2 linked regions of the Homo sapiens genome follow. The protein of the gene in region 2 purifies or fractionates together with the protein of the main gene of each other region. This does not show direct contact. Each region holds a gene or a part of one and is shown on either strand. Other genes may lie near its edges. The genes, in order: BMP2K and INTS4.

The links.
Region 1: the proteins of INTS4 (region 2) and BMP2K purify together in Homo sapiens (affinity purification with mass spectrometry; 2 studies listed by BioGRID and IntAct, with this or other methods). This does not show direct contact.

The regions. Positions count from the first base shown.
Region 1 is NC_000004.12:78,905,123-78,912,816, reverse strand, and holds part of BMP2K (BMP-2-inducible protein kinase), read right to left. Parts: intron 6,710-7,694; exon of another isoform or gene 6,656-6,709; intron 2,208-6,655; coding exon 784-2,207; 3' UTR 1-783. UniProt on the Homo sapiens protein: May be involved in osteoblast differentiation.
Region 2 is NC_000011.10:77,956,331-77,964,024, forward strand, and holds part of INTS4 (integrator complex subunit 4), read right to left. Parts: intron 4,809-7,694; coding exon 4,623-4,808; intron 4,062-4,622; coding exon 4,011-4,061; intron 2,505-4,010; coding exon 2,416-2,504; intron 1-2,415. UniProt on the Homo sapiens protein: Component of the integrator complex, a multiprotein complex that terminates RNA polymerase II (Pol II) transcription in the promoter-proximal region of genes.

The sequences.
Region 1 (7,694 bases), on a different chromosome or scaffold from region 2:
TTCATATTTTTGTTCTAGGCTTCTGTGCGACGATAGTCCATTTTTTTAATTTGTTTTAACTGACAAAAATTATATATATTTATCATGTATAACATTGTTTTGGAATATGTAAGTTGTGGAATAGTTAAATTGAGCTAATTACACATTATTTCATATGCTTATCATTAGATATTCCATTTTAATGGCACTTGTTTTTAAAAATGAAACAGAGTTTTAGGCACAATAGTCAGTTACTTCTGGCTCTGCTTTGTGGAGAAAGGTGTATGGACTGAAATCTCTGCACTCTCCAGATAATAACTTTCTAATGCTTTAAGATAACTAGATTGTTTTTAACTGTCTGGAAATTAAAAGAGACCTTAAAAAAAATTCACAAGTGTAACTAGTGTATGTAGAAATAACCCTAATTTTAGGGATATGCACATAAAAATGACATTCTGATATCAAAAATAACAGTTTCACTGTCCCTTCTCAGTGGCTACACACCTAGAAAGGTGCCATGTGCTTTCACTGGAAGTACCACACTTGCATTTCTGTGTTGTGATGTCAGTAGCAGAAACCCTTAGTTAGAGCTTGCAATTTAGCTCCCTTTTCTCCTGAAGAGGAATCAAGTTACTACCCTGTAGAGATACTTCATTCTTCTATTTGGTTTATTTAGAAATCACCTATTCTGACTGATCTTTAAGAATGAATGCTATAAAGAGCTACCAAATTTTCTTTCAAATTCATAAAACTGTTCACACTTTTTTGAAACAGGAGTTAATGCCGAGAATCCATCAGAAGTATCTACTGTTTAGAAGGAAATGGAGCAGCACCAAATGGGTCTAATTCGACTGGTTGGGACTGTTGGGACTGATGTGGAGTGATGCTTTGCACCACAAGTTCTGTAAAGGGCACGGCACCAAAATCATCCATTTTCAATACATCTGCACTATGGAATGACCCATGTAGTGAATTTTGTCTTGGCCGCCCTGGCAGGACAGTATTGTGATCAGCACGGATGTCGCTCAGGCCCTGATGTGGAGGGTGCCATGACAGGTCTGGAGAATGGAAGGGCTTGGCACCGAAGGGGTCCAACAGGCTCTCCTCAGGTTGTAAGACATTCCCCCTATCTTTCCCATCAGTCAGTGCAACACTAATGTTCTCCTTGGAGTCTGAGATGGTTAAAAATTCATTGCTACTTTGAGAGTCTCGGCGGCCCACTTTTTTGTGCCTGCGAGCCCTCTCTGGAGTGCGATAGGTAGGCTTCAAAGTCTTCTTTGTGCTAGTTGGCGTGCCATGATGCCGCTTCCCATTACTTTTGGACATATCCTGCTTTGTGCGCCTTTGGCGAGAGGACAGTTTCTGTAAGCTGCGCTGTTTGACTTTTTGCTGCTGGCTCCCCGTTATTTCATCAAAGGGCACAAGCCCAAAAAGGTCCTCATTGCTTTCACTTTTACTTGTTGATGTGAGGAAGGGCTGAAATGGAGTGGAGCCAAATACATCTACACTTTTGGGATAACCAGGGATAGTATGTGCCTCAGGCCCCACTGCATGGCATTCTTGTACATTCACCTTCTTGCTAAAAGGCGCCTTTGTGAATACATCAAATTCCTCCTGCTCCAGTCCTGCAGCAGGAAACCTGTGTTGAGGGAGGTTCTTTTCATTCTTTTCTTGCTGGGGCTGTTGAGCACGCACTGCAAAGAAGGGGACAGCGCCAAATACATCAAACTCCTGTTTGGGAGTCTCCACTGCAACATCAGAGGATAATTGGGCTGAGGTGAGGAGTATTGTATTAAGATCTTGGGTTGGTCCACTGCCAGATCTGTCTCTGTAGACAGAGCTCATGTCACTGTACTTTGCTTTAGCCTGCTCATAATCAGAATCAGAGCTATGTTTCTCCTCTTCTTCCTCATCTTCAGAATCCATGAGGAGAGGCCTATGACCCAGATTTTCTGGTTCAGTATCATCATCATTAAAATCTCCTTGTTCCCCCTGAAGAACTTCTTCATCATCTTGCTCTTCCTCTTCACTGCTCTTAGGAGAAGGGGGATCTGATTCAAAATCACTTTCAGATTCATCATTCCCCTTTTGCACTTGACCCTGTACTGAGGTTTTCTTTCCAGTCCGCTGATCTTTAGATGCTGGACTTGTTTTACCGTTCTTGATAGGGTTTGCAGTGCCATTTTCTTGATTTATAGATGAATGTTCAGCTTTCTTTTCAGGAGAACCTGCAAGTTCAAATAAATATTATTACAGCATTCCAATGCATTTCAGAATCCTCTTGCACTAAATGTTAATATGTATTACACATGGCATTACAAATCCCTCATACGAGTTCCCTTAGAGGAAAAAATAATGTTGTCAATTCTTCGTCATTAGACTTAGAGAATGCATTTGACCTCAGGTAGATAGTTAAGTCTTAATGTAGACAGACTTATTCATATCTGGACCCTACACCCTGCCTCATCGTACTCTCACTGACAGCCAAATTTTATTTATAGCACACAGAATGTAGTAGACTAGCAAATTTTCTTCACCCCACCACCAAAATAACATTATTCTGCTAATTCTGAAAGCTCAGATTTCACATTCACCAAATACCTCCTGCTTATATTTCAACTCTTGTAAAGTTTTCCCATAGAGATCAACAAGCATGAACAGCCTGCCTGCTCAGTTACGTATTTGTTTCACTATTTTTTTAAATCAGCATTGTATTTTTTATAAACCACTATCTTTTGAATTGACTTAGCATGAATGGCCTCACCAAAGCTAAGGACCAGATACTAAATGGAGACTGTACCAAAAACATCTGCCTTCTCTAGATGATATGACTTCCTTTAATTATAATATCTATACATTACATTAAAAAAGCGAGATTCCTTTAAAAACAAATCTAAACCATCTGGAGATGTTTTTAGCTCAGAATCCATTCAGTCACTTCATTTTCTGAGTTCATTCAACGAAAGAAATATAGGGCACTTTGCTATACACTGATTATACATTGGTGAGTAAAAGAAACATGGTTTCTGCTTTCAGGGGTTTACAGTCAGAGGTTGTAAGTAAACATAAATTGTGACTAGTGCTCTGAAATAAAGGACAGCAGGGAAATGGGCGCATAAACCTACTTTGGACAGTGGTGAAGACCTCCCTAAGGAGACGACAGTTAGGATTGAACAATGAGAAGGAGCCCAGCCATGCAAAGGATAAGCTGGAAGCAGCTTCCAATAAAAGCAATGGCATATATAAAGACATATTTAAGGGGCTGAAAATAGGCTATTGTGGCTGGAATATAGTGAGCAAGGGAGGATCAGGTACAACATGAGGTAAGGAAGACTGGAAAAGGCCAGACTGTGAAGGTCCTCTAAGGCCATGATAAGCAGCGTATATTTCATTATACATCTAATTCAAAATTCCATGTATAATGGAAAGCTATTATTAAAATAGGTGTCATGATTAGGTTTACATAAAAAAAAATGACTGCTCTATAGAAAAACACTAAGGGGGCTGGGTGCGGTGGCTCACCCCTGTAATCCCAGCACTTTGGGAGGCCAAGGCGGGTGGATCACGAGGTCAGGAGTTTGAGACCAGCCTGGCCAACATGGTGAAACCCCATCTCTACTAAAAATAGAAAAATTAGCCAGGCATGTTGGCAGGTGCCAGCTGAGCCAGGAGAATCGCTTGAAACTGGAAGACAGAGGTTGCAGTGAGCCAAGATCGCACCACTGCACTCCAGTCTGGGCCAAAGAGCGAACTGTCTCAAAAAAAAAAAAAAAAAAAAAAAAGACTAAGGGAAGGTAAGAAGGGGAGTTCAGGCAAAAGGAAATTATAGTAATGCAAGTTAGAGATTTTGGTGGCCTAGATGACATGACAGTGGTGGCAGGGTGGGTCAAAGTAGAAAAAATAGAGATTGAAAACTCTTGGTGGATGGCAGCACCATTAACAGAAAGAAAAGAATGAGTGGCGTGATAGAAACCCATTTACCCTGATGTGATTATTATGCACTGTATACCTGTATCAACATATCTCATGTACCCCATAAATGTATATACCTACTATGTACCCACACACAAATTTTAATGAGCATAATTTTTTAAAAAATGAGTAAGTTGGAAAGTGAAGAGGAGTACTAAAAATTTTGTTTGGAGACATTAAGCTTGACATATGTGTGAGACAACATTTAAGTGTACAGCAGTTAGGTATCTGTGATTTGAAACCAATGGTTAGTTTTTGGCTGAAGAAAATAGATTTGGGAGTTATCACCATGCAGTTGGTATGCAGAGAGAGCCACAAGACTAAAGGGCATACCTCGGAAGAAAACATAGAAGAAAAGAAGATCCAAAACTGAGCCCTCAGTATAAAACATTCAGAAGTCAGCAGAGGAAGATGAACATACAAAACAAACTACAAAGTAACAGCCAGAGAGGAGGAAGAAAACAGCTGAGTGCAATGTCACAGAAATGGAGAGAGAAGAATGTTTGAGGGAGGTAACAGACAACTGAGCTGGATGGTGCAAAGAGGTCCAGTAAACTAAGGACATAAAATGGCCACTGGATCTGGTCATCTTGTATAGTTTGTTGGCAATGTTGACATGAGTAGTGGTGCTAAAGAATGTGTGGGAGACAAGTATGTGAAGAATACCACCAGGTTATACTTAATTGCAAATATAATCTTCTGTCAGTTCCTTAAAACCAGCCAAGAGCTACATGCTGTATTTGTTATCCTTCCAGATTAAAAGCAAATCAAATGCAGATTCTCAAGTTTGACTTCTTCCCTACACAGCGTATTTATGATATTAAAAACAAAGTTAATTTTAGTGAATTTATTTTTATGAATTTTTATTCAAAAGCAAAATATGGGAAGAAGGGAAAAATGAAAATAAAATATGTACGGTTCCAGAAGATTTCCCATCATCCCTGACTGTGAAACGTTTAACGTATTACTCCTCGAGCTGCATACCCACCCACAGCCACAACATTCACACCTCACGCCTGCTCACGGACACCTCCAAGTAACATTCCAATGTTGCCCAAAGTGTATTCTGCAGAGGCTATTTCCCTAACAAGAACCAAGACAAACAGTTCTGTGGTCTCAAGCAAACAAGTCTATGAAATGGTGCACTCTGCATTCTGCCTCCACTCCTACTCACCTGGAGTATGCTCATTAAAGGTGCTAATGAGTCCTACACAAAAGAATCTAATTTTATGAACCCTAGGATTTCCCAAATTGTCTTCACTACCCTTTTATTTACATGTAATGCCTGTTAACCTTTAAAACCAACTATGCAAAAGTACTTTGGGGAAATGCTGCTATACAACTTATCTTGAAATTTTCCATTTCTAGTTGTGTTCCTGAAGGTCTTCTGGAACATTTAACGTAGGACAGATAATTCATCTTGGAGAGTGTCACTTGGAAGTGAATTTAAATTCGCCTTCTTTTTAAAATTATTACATTGTACTCCCTAGTCTTCTTAAAATTTACTGTTTTCATTATTCAACTGGCTACCATTACTTTTCAGAAGACATCTGTCACTTTATACTTCTCATTCTGTTGGCCCTTTGTCCATTTATCAAAGTTGTATTAATAGAAATACACATTTATAATTGTCAGTGTGGGTATAAATCTGTGGGTTTTTAACTTACTATTTTTAATGCATCTTTTCAGGTATCAACAGTCTATTATTTATTCTGATAGAAATATGATAAAATATTCCATATATAACTGTTCACTATTTAGCAATAGAATATTTAGGTTGTTTCTAGTTTTTCGGCATTTTAGATACAACCATGATTCATGCACTTTTTCCTTCAAGGAGTAAAAAGGAAACCCTCCTTTTTTAGTATCAATTTCACTTTATTTATATACTATGATTCCCTCCTCATGGGTAATTAACACAGCTACTAAAGCTAACCCAATAATAATCCTGACAAGGTCACCACTATTCCACTTTCTTTATACACAAAATGGGATAACACATTTTATATCATAGAGCTATTGTGAAGAAAGGACTTAGAACGGTGCCTGAACACATAATAAGCACTCTACCATCATCATGTCCTGGGAATGGCCAAATTCAATTATTTTATCCATCATACCCAATAAGCTTCTAGTAACTTTTCTGGGCCCAGTGGTTGCAGGTGAATATAAATGAGGGAGAAGTGTAGGGAGAAGCAAGTCTATGGCTAATTCAAGAGGAGCTGAGATCCACTTCAGAACTGACCAGAAGTAAGTAGACCAACAAATGTATATCCACACAGCATAAGGGTACATTTTAGATCCTGGAAATTCTATTTTTGATTTTTAGACAGCTATATTTGAGAACACAGTATAAGAAATGGAAACACACTTTCAAAAAGAGCAAGAAAAGACACAATCATCTATACCACCTTTGTGCTTTCAGGTTACATCTGCAAATAGTACGGGCAACTGGGGAAATTTTCTGTTGGTGTAGATAGACTGGTTTTACTTATTTTGCCCCCCTACATAAAACTAAAATAACAATCAAAAATATTTATCCAAATTCCTGTTTTCTCCCATATTCTTGCAACCCACACTGACATTGTTTAAATATTTCACTCTACACTTTTACTGCTGTTATAAACTTATAAAAAGTAAAGAGCAGTAATGAGGCTCTCTGAAAGCATACTAAGACAAACTATTAATCCTTTTATCTCTCCAGTACCTCCTGCTGAGGAAAAGTTAGGTTCCAGGCTGCAAGTTACCACAATCCAAGGTAAGTTTCTGCAGTAGCAGTGATCTACTTAATCATCTATTCATCATGAAACTACAGAAGAGCTGGGAAAGAAAGGTGAATTACACAAAAATAAAAAGTATTTCAGTATATTCTAAGGCTTTCAGTCCTATTCCATAGACATAAAAGACTGTCAGAATAAGTATTTTAAGTTATAAAGTTGGTTATAACTATACAATGCACAGCACTTTAGAATGTGACCTCTAGCTAAGAATGCCATAAACCTTCATACTCCATTTCTTTGCCTAAACATATTCCTATAATTTAAAAAAAAAAATTTCAGATCTTCCCACTATTTGTGTCTGGGGCCAGATTCCCACTAGTTGTTAGATTAAATAATACACATTTGATTTACTATGAAATTTAATCAGGATTATTTCACTGCTAAAGTTAATTTCCCAAAAGTATAAGCCTAAATATGTTGCTTTATAATTCAATATACCCTAAATCCTAATAATCCCCATATTTACTGAGATCTGTATTATTAACATAAAAATAGCTGTTCTTCAAGTAGGTGGGAGATGGGGGTATAATATTTAGAATAAGCACTAACAACATGTATTTACAGCATTAAAAACTGTGTAGATGGTGCACAGAATCATAACTCATTTACATTATTTTAGTATACTGTGAAATTTCATATATTCACCCACTGTTTTTATTTTTGGCTCTAAGTAATGTATTTCTTCTTTTTCTTTAACTAAATATGGTAGAATGATATTTTGATGGTTTCTAGTCAAGATATTCTTTATTTCTGTTTTTGTGCTTTGGAACTACGAACTAAAAATTTTAGCTTTTTTATTATCTTAGGAAGTTGCATGTTAATTACTGACACTAAGCAAGTTTACTAATTATGCAGTGATTTAGTAAATAAATGCCGTGCAAAAATCTATATGATCAACCAATATCTGTAAACAAAACTTAACGAAAGGGTTAATCAATTAATTGAGAGCTATTATTTCAAATG
Region 2 (7,694 bases):
AGCTCTGGAGGTGAAGGTTGCAGTGAGCTGAGATCACACCACGGCACTCCAGCCTGGATGACACAGCAAGACCCTGTCTTGAAAAATAAATACAGTCTGGGCGCAATGGCTCACGCCTGTAATGCCAGCACTTTGGGAGGCTGAGGCAGGTGGATAACTTGAGGTCAAGAGTTCGAGACCAGCCTGGCCAACATGGCGAAACCTCCTCTCTACTAAAAATATAAAAATTAGCCAGGCATGGTGACACATGTCTGCAATTCCAGCTACTCAGGAGGCTGAGGCAGGAGAATCGCTTGAACCTGGAATGTGGAGGTTGCAGTGATCCAAGATAGTGCCACTACACTCCAGCCTGGGCAACAGAGCGAGACTCCATCTCAAAAAATAATAATAATAATAATAATAATAATAATAATAATAATAATAATAATAAACAAATAAATACATAAGTAAGTAAGGCTGCAGGCTCAATAAACTGAGAACAGTCAATGAAGACTGACACACACAAAAATGATAATTGAATAGTTCAAATCCTAGAATGATTAAATACAGTTTGGAATAAACAAATCACTCTGGGAGTACAAACCAACTCTTTCAGTTGCATTGCAAATTATGCTTTTTTTTGAGACAGGGTCTCACTTCTGTCGCCCAGGCTGGAGTGCAGTGGCGTGAGCACTGCTCACCACAGTGTCAACTTCCTGGGCTCAGGTGATCCTCCCAGTTCACCCTCCTGAGTAGCCGGGACTACAAAAGCATGCCACCACACCCAGCTAATTTTTTATATTTTTAGTAGAGATGGTTCACCATGTTGCCCAGGCTGATCTCAAACTCCTGAGATCAAGCAATCCACCCGCCTCAGCCTCCCAAAGTGCTAGGATTACAGGGCTGAGTCACTGCAACCAGGTGCAAATTTTCAATGTATTGAATAAAAGTGTGTAACCCACCAAAGGTTCAGCCAGGCGTGTAATCCCAGCACACTGAGATACTGAGGCGGGCAGATTACCTGAAGCCAGGGGTTCAAGACCAGCCTACCCAACATGGCAAAACCTCATCTCTACTAAAAGTACAAAAAATGAGCTGGGTGTGGTGGTGCGCGACTGTAATTCCAGCTACTTGGGAGGCTCAGGCATGAGAATTGCTTCAACCCAGGAGTTGGAGGTTGTAGTAAGCCGAGATCACATCACTGCACTGCAGCCTGGGCCACAGAGCAAGACCCTGCCTTAAAAAAAAAAGTACGTAACCCACCAAAGGTTCAAAGATTTATGAAATTATCAAAAACTAGCTTCCACCGAATATTTCATATCCTTAAGTTTATTATCTTCTGTAACTGAACTTCTTTTTTTTTTTTTTTTTTTTTGAGAGAAAGTGTCTTGCTCTGTGACCCAGGCTGGAGTGCAGTGGTGTGATCTCAGCTCACCACAATCTCCACTTCCCAGGTTCAAGCGATTCTCCTGCCTCAGCCTCCCTAGTAGCTGGGATTACAGGCGTGTGCCACCATGTCCGGCTAATTTTTGTATTTTTAGTAGAGACGAGGTTTCACCATGTTGACCAAGCTGGTCTTGAACTCCTGACCTGAGGTGATCCGCCCACCTCGGCCTCCGAAAGTGCTGGGATTACAGGCACCACCGTGTCCAGACTGAACTTCTATAAATACAGTAAATCTCAGAATAAATCAATATAAAACTTACTTATCAATCCAGTCCTAAAAGAAGACACAATTTCCAGTTAGCCCTTTTCTTTGTATGTGTCTAAGTCCTAAAACACTACAAATGGAGCCTACTCCTACAGGTTTATTAATTCATTCTGGTTTTCAAATTCTGGCAGTTTAATGAACAGGAAAAAACACCCCTTTTTCCTATACAAGGAAAAATAAAATATTCTATAAATATTTATAAATAAAAGATAAATAAACATTTATAAATATAATATTCTATCTTACAAAATATAATAAATAATATTGCCTACCTCCTCAAAGAATCACTGTGGTTAATTTAATTGCTGTGAAAATATTTTTAACCAGGAAAACTACATAAGAGATCATTATTCTCAAACTCATCTGGTATCTTTATCTGGCATTTGGCACAAGCCAAACTAAAATGGGTCCCAAACAATTTTAAAGATTTTTTTGTAAAGTACTGAAAACCATTTAAGAAAGATATTCCAATTTCTTCACTTATGGATGAGAAGGTTAGGATAAAAGAAGTGAAGTATCTTTCCAAAGTGTACAGAAAGTTCCTATCAGAGATGAAAAATGAGGACCAGGCAATCTGATTTTCAGGGCCTGTGCTTTTCCCTTATTCCCCATTGCCTTCCAAAAATGTAACCAACATTTCTTTTCTAGAAGTGGGCTTTTTGCATGGTGAGAGGAGAGGAAAACGGCTTCACAATCAACAAAAGCCAGCTTACACCCACACTGACCTTTCAGGATAGAGCTGACTGACGACCCAGATAAGCTGGACTGCAGCACTGCGCACTTGTTCATAGTCATCAGAGAGTAATTTACAGGCCTGCAAAGAAGAATTCCAAAAGTCTATTAGTTCTGTGTCCTCTCAGGCAATGTTTAAACTATTTTCAAAGTGAAGATAGGGTGGTTGGATAAGGATGCCCAGTAAAACACTTGTGTGTGGTTTTAACTTCTGGAATCTTTGCTTAAAAATGAATCTTGACCTCTGTCAGCTGCTCTGGCTGTATTCTGACTATGCACCCTACCCCATGTCTGAAAGGAGAATCACAGACTGACAGCATAAAAACATCTAGAACAGATCAAACCCAGCAAAGCATGCTGGGAGCAAACAGTACTGTTCTCACAGGTTCAAACACCAATTATGGCTTTTTCCTCCCCCTGTAAAAATCAAAGCACACACTTCTGTTTACCTTGGTCTGAAATCACTGGCCTCTGTTTCAATCCACTCACTCTTTCTGGGTAGCCCCATACTCCCTAAATACTGATGGCTTTGAATACCTACCCTTAGCTCTGATTTCTCCTGATCTCCAGGCCTTTATAACTACTTATGGCTGGAATTCTCTTCATGGATGTCCCATCAAACTTTTATACTCAACACACGCAAACCTGAACTCATTAAGGAAGCAAATTCTACCTTATATCTTAAATTCTACACTATCAGTCCATCCTCACTCCCTTGATGCTGTCATTACTGCTTGCCTAGATTACTAACAGAGTCTTACGCCACCAAACATCTGAATCAGCCAACTAACTTCCCTTCCTCTGAGTCCTTACGATCCAAGTTTCCTTTGAATTATTTGGCTTCCCACATAGTTTTCTTATAGAAAAAGAAGGCGATGGTCACACCACCACAAGCATTCTGGACCCATTCTACTTCATTCAATAGAGGAATAAACTTGGTTTACACATCTGTGATGGGGCTTGGCTAATTATCTTCTTCCCATGAGAGATAAAACCACTCTTGGCAGGCTAACAAAACCTAATCTCTGAACGTGGATTTAGATTCCTTTTACCAGATTCAGTCAATTATCCTCCAAGAGAAATACAGCCTCATAAGGCCTTTTGGTTGGCCATCAATCAGCTTTTCCACAACTTCATTATACCTTTCTTTACCACTACTACTACATGCATGTGACTTTTTTTTTATATGATCCTACGGTCTTGGTCACCCTTCTCCAGACACACTCTAGTTTGTGAAGTGTGGTGCCCAGAAATGAGTTCATGTACGGCCCAACCAAACAGTGATCAGAAAGACTAACACGTTCCTTATTCTAAATGCTACACTTTTCTTCAGGTACTCTCATTCTCATACTGAACTTTGTAAATCCTCCTAAAAGTCCTTTTCACATGTACTAGCGCTATTTAATTACATAACCTCCATTCTCTTCCTGAAAAGTATGTTTTGAATATGACTTCACATCCATCCCAATCAACGCTGCCACTATTAACTAGCGAAGTCCTTACGTTTTCAAATTCTGAGAACCTGTGTGCCGCCCTCCCAGCTTCATGATACCTCCAACCCCTTCCAGACAGTAATCATATAAGGTACCTGATTATAAATTGTTTGGTGTAATTTCAGTCCTCTTTCATGGAGCTGCAACTAGATAATAAATATATAGTTTAAGTGCTTGGGAGGAAAAGAGCAATATTTCCAATGTCTCCCCACAATCTCACATATTTTCCCCTATTGTATCAGGCTAACATGGTTCCTTTTAGCCAAAATTAGTGCTATATAAATAAGAAACCTTGTCGTCTTTCAATAGGAGCATTCAAGCATTTCACAAATCTAACCCATGGACTGTCCCAAGAAGGTATTAGAAAAATATGAAATAATGATATGAAGCCTAAAGAAAAAATGATTAACACCACCTCCCCCTATTATAATATCATACCAAGTCATATGCCTCCAAGTCGAAGGAATTATAACAGGTTCCTATTGTGCTTTCCATGTTTCATAAATACACATGAAAGCTACCAGAGAAAGCCAAAAAAGCACACTTGTATACAGGAATGTGTGTCACTGAGTTCTGCGAGGCCACCACCAATACCCTCCTGAAAGTATATGCTGAAGAATTTACAATGTATCCAAGGCAGCACTAGCTATAAACTTAAAAAACAAAAATGAACACTAGCCCCAACTAGTTTCCATAATCACATTTACCATGGCTTTTATAGCTGCTGTTCTGACACGTGGGTCTTGGTCACTGAAGTAATCCCCTATAATCTTCTGGACATCTCTGGCAGCTAGGCCTTCTGCATCTTTTGTGACACTTTTCTCCAAAGAGCCAAGATTGCCAAGTAACTGCAGGCACTTATTTCTTACACCATGAGACGTATCTGTCAGATGCTATTAAAAAAAAAAAAAAAAAGAAAAAAAGAAAAAGAAAAAAAGGACATGATTAAGATATCTTAACAAACACAGACAAGACCAGAAACAAAAGCATTGCAGCAACCTTAGGGGTGATTTCAAGACCTATATTCTTAGGACAGTCTGTCTAGCATCATGTTACTTGAGTACGGGTCTTCTCAAAAAAAATGAGTCCTTAGAAAATAAAAGTCCTAGTTTTTCATCTTTGTATTCCCAATAGCTTTGGGAATACAAAGGCACTTTGCCTTGTACAGAGTAGGTACTTTAAAATTCGTCCCTGATTGCGTTTTATTTGCTTTCAAATTTTAAAACCAGACAAAAATGTATAAATTTTTAAAACTTTTAATATCCATAGAAATATGCAAAATCTTAAGTGTACAGCTCAATAAATTTTCACAAATACACATATATAACAAGCACCCAGATTAAATAGTATATAACCAACACTCCAGAAATATCCCTCATTCCTCCTCCCAGCAACAACCTCACCACATCACCACCAAAAATAGCTACTATCCTGACTTCTAACACACAGGTTCATTTGTTTATTTTTGTACTTTATGAAATCAAATAGCATCTGGCTTCTGTGGCTTATTATGTTTGTAAGATTTATGCAAGGTATGGCAGATAGCAATGGTTCATTTATTCTTGTTACTTATATAGTATTCATTTGTAAATACATGAAAATCTATTTAGCCTTTCCGTTGATGAATATTTAAGTTATTTCCAGTCTTTGGCTATTTCGAATAATGCTACTGTGATTATTCTTGTATGTGGCTTTTGGTGTACATGTTCACATTTTTGTTGGATATATATGTAGAAGTAGAATTGATAGGTAACAAGACATGCTTCAGCTTAAGAAGATACTGCCAGTTGGGCACAGTAGCTCATGCCTATAATCCCAGCACTTTGGGAGGCCAAGGCAGGAGGATCACTTGAGCCCAGGAGTTCAAGACTGTCCTGGGCAAATGGGACTATAGGCATGTGGTGGCACACACCTATAGTCCCAGCTACCCAGAAGGCTGAGGTAGGAGGATCCTTTGAGCCTCGGAGGTGGAGGCTGCAGTGAGCCATGATCATGCCACTGCACTCCAACCTGGATGACAGAGTGAGATACTGCCTCCAAAAAAGAAGATATTGCCAAATAGTTTTCCATAATGGCTGTACTAATTTACACTTCCACCAGTGCTGCATAAGTGTTCTAGATGTGCCACATCCTTGTTGACATTTAGTACTATCAATATTTTTTATTTTAGCACCTCTCACCACGAATTTTAATAAATTATCAGTTTTCCTCCTGCATTACCCTAGTCCAATGCTACTAAAACAAGCTATTTGCATAACATAGCAACATAAATTAAAAATACTTTGAAGAAATGAGGTAATAAAAATGGTACAAAACTCTGGATTTCAAACTTCTTTTGACTAGCACCCAAAGTAAGAAACACATAATATTGCAAGACAGTACATAAAAACAGACATACAGCAAGTTTAACAAAACAATATTTACCTTATAGCTTGTGATTTACTCTGGTACTTGTATTTTATTTTTTTTCAAAAAAAAAAATTACGTCTCATGAAATTGGTCACATTACCCACTAATGGATAATGATTCTCAAAGTGAGTCACTAGTGCGGAGAAAAGTGAATGGGACTTGGCCAGCTTGGACAACACAGCGAGGCCCCATTTCTTTAAAAAAAAAATTTATAGCCAGGTGTGGTGGCACACACCTGTAATCCCAGCTACTCGGGAGGCTGAGGCCAGAGAATTGCTTGAACCCAGGAAGCGGAGGTTTCAGTGAGCCAAGATCACGCCACTGCACTCCAGCCTGAGCAACAGAGCAAGACTGTCTCAAACCGCGCCCCCTAAAATTCAAAAACAAAACAAATGAACTATTTATATTTAGTATAAAAACATCATTTCTCATGACTAAACTGTTGATTGCACCTCTGTTACAAACACTTTGATTTTCAAGCAATAAACTAAATACTTCTAGCTTCTGTCAACCAGGCAACAATAATGCACAATCAATGTATTACTGCACACTGAATCTTAGCCCAAAAGAGAGTCTCATGCTCTCAGGGAAACAATTACAATTTTATGATGTCCTTCCCTTACAAGTCACTTCTTGCATCAAGGTCATCATCATTAAGAACTGCTTTTCTGGCCGGGCGCAGAACGAGACTCCGTCTCAAAAAAAAAAAAAAAAAAAAAACAAAAAAAACTGCTTTTCTTTATACTGTTGGATAAAAACTTATTAATTAAAAAAAATTGCTAAGTGTCTGCAGATGCTATTTGGGTGTTACACATTTTGTCAGGCCATTGAAGTGCCATAATTTTTATATTAATGGAGCAAGTAAGGAAACCACATCCCCAATAATAAGACCAATTTGTGTCAAAAATAAAAATTAATTTACAATTTTGCTATATATTAAAAAAATAAATGGTTCTGTGTATCAACAAAATCTGAGAATGAAGTTGAATAAGATAAAAATAACATACTGATCCATTCAGCATCGATATGGATTTTTTTTTTCTTTTGAGATAAGGGTCTCGCTCTGTCACCCAGGCTGGAGTGCAGTGTTGCAATCAGCATTCACTGCAACCTTGGCCTGACAAGCTCAAGAGATACTCCCACCTCAGTCTCCTGAGTAGCTGGGGACCACAGGTGTGTGCCATCACACCTGGCTAATTTTTAAAATTTTTGTAGAGATGGGATGTTGCCACATTGCCCAGACTGGTCTCAAACTCTTGGGCTCAGGTGATCCTTGATATGAATAGTTTTTAAGGACAGATAACAATTTGGTGTATTCTGTATGCAGATTCTAATGTATACCCTCTTTTAACAAGAACTTTGGTCTCCCA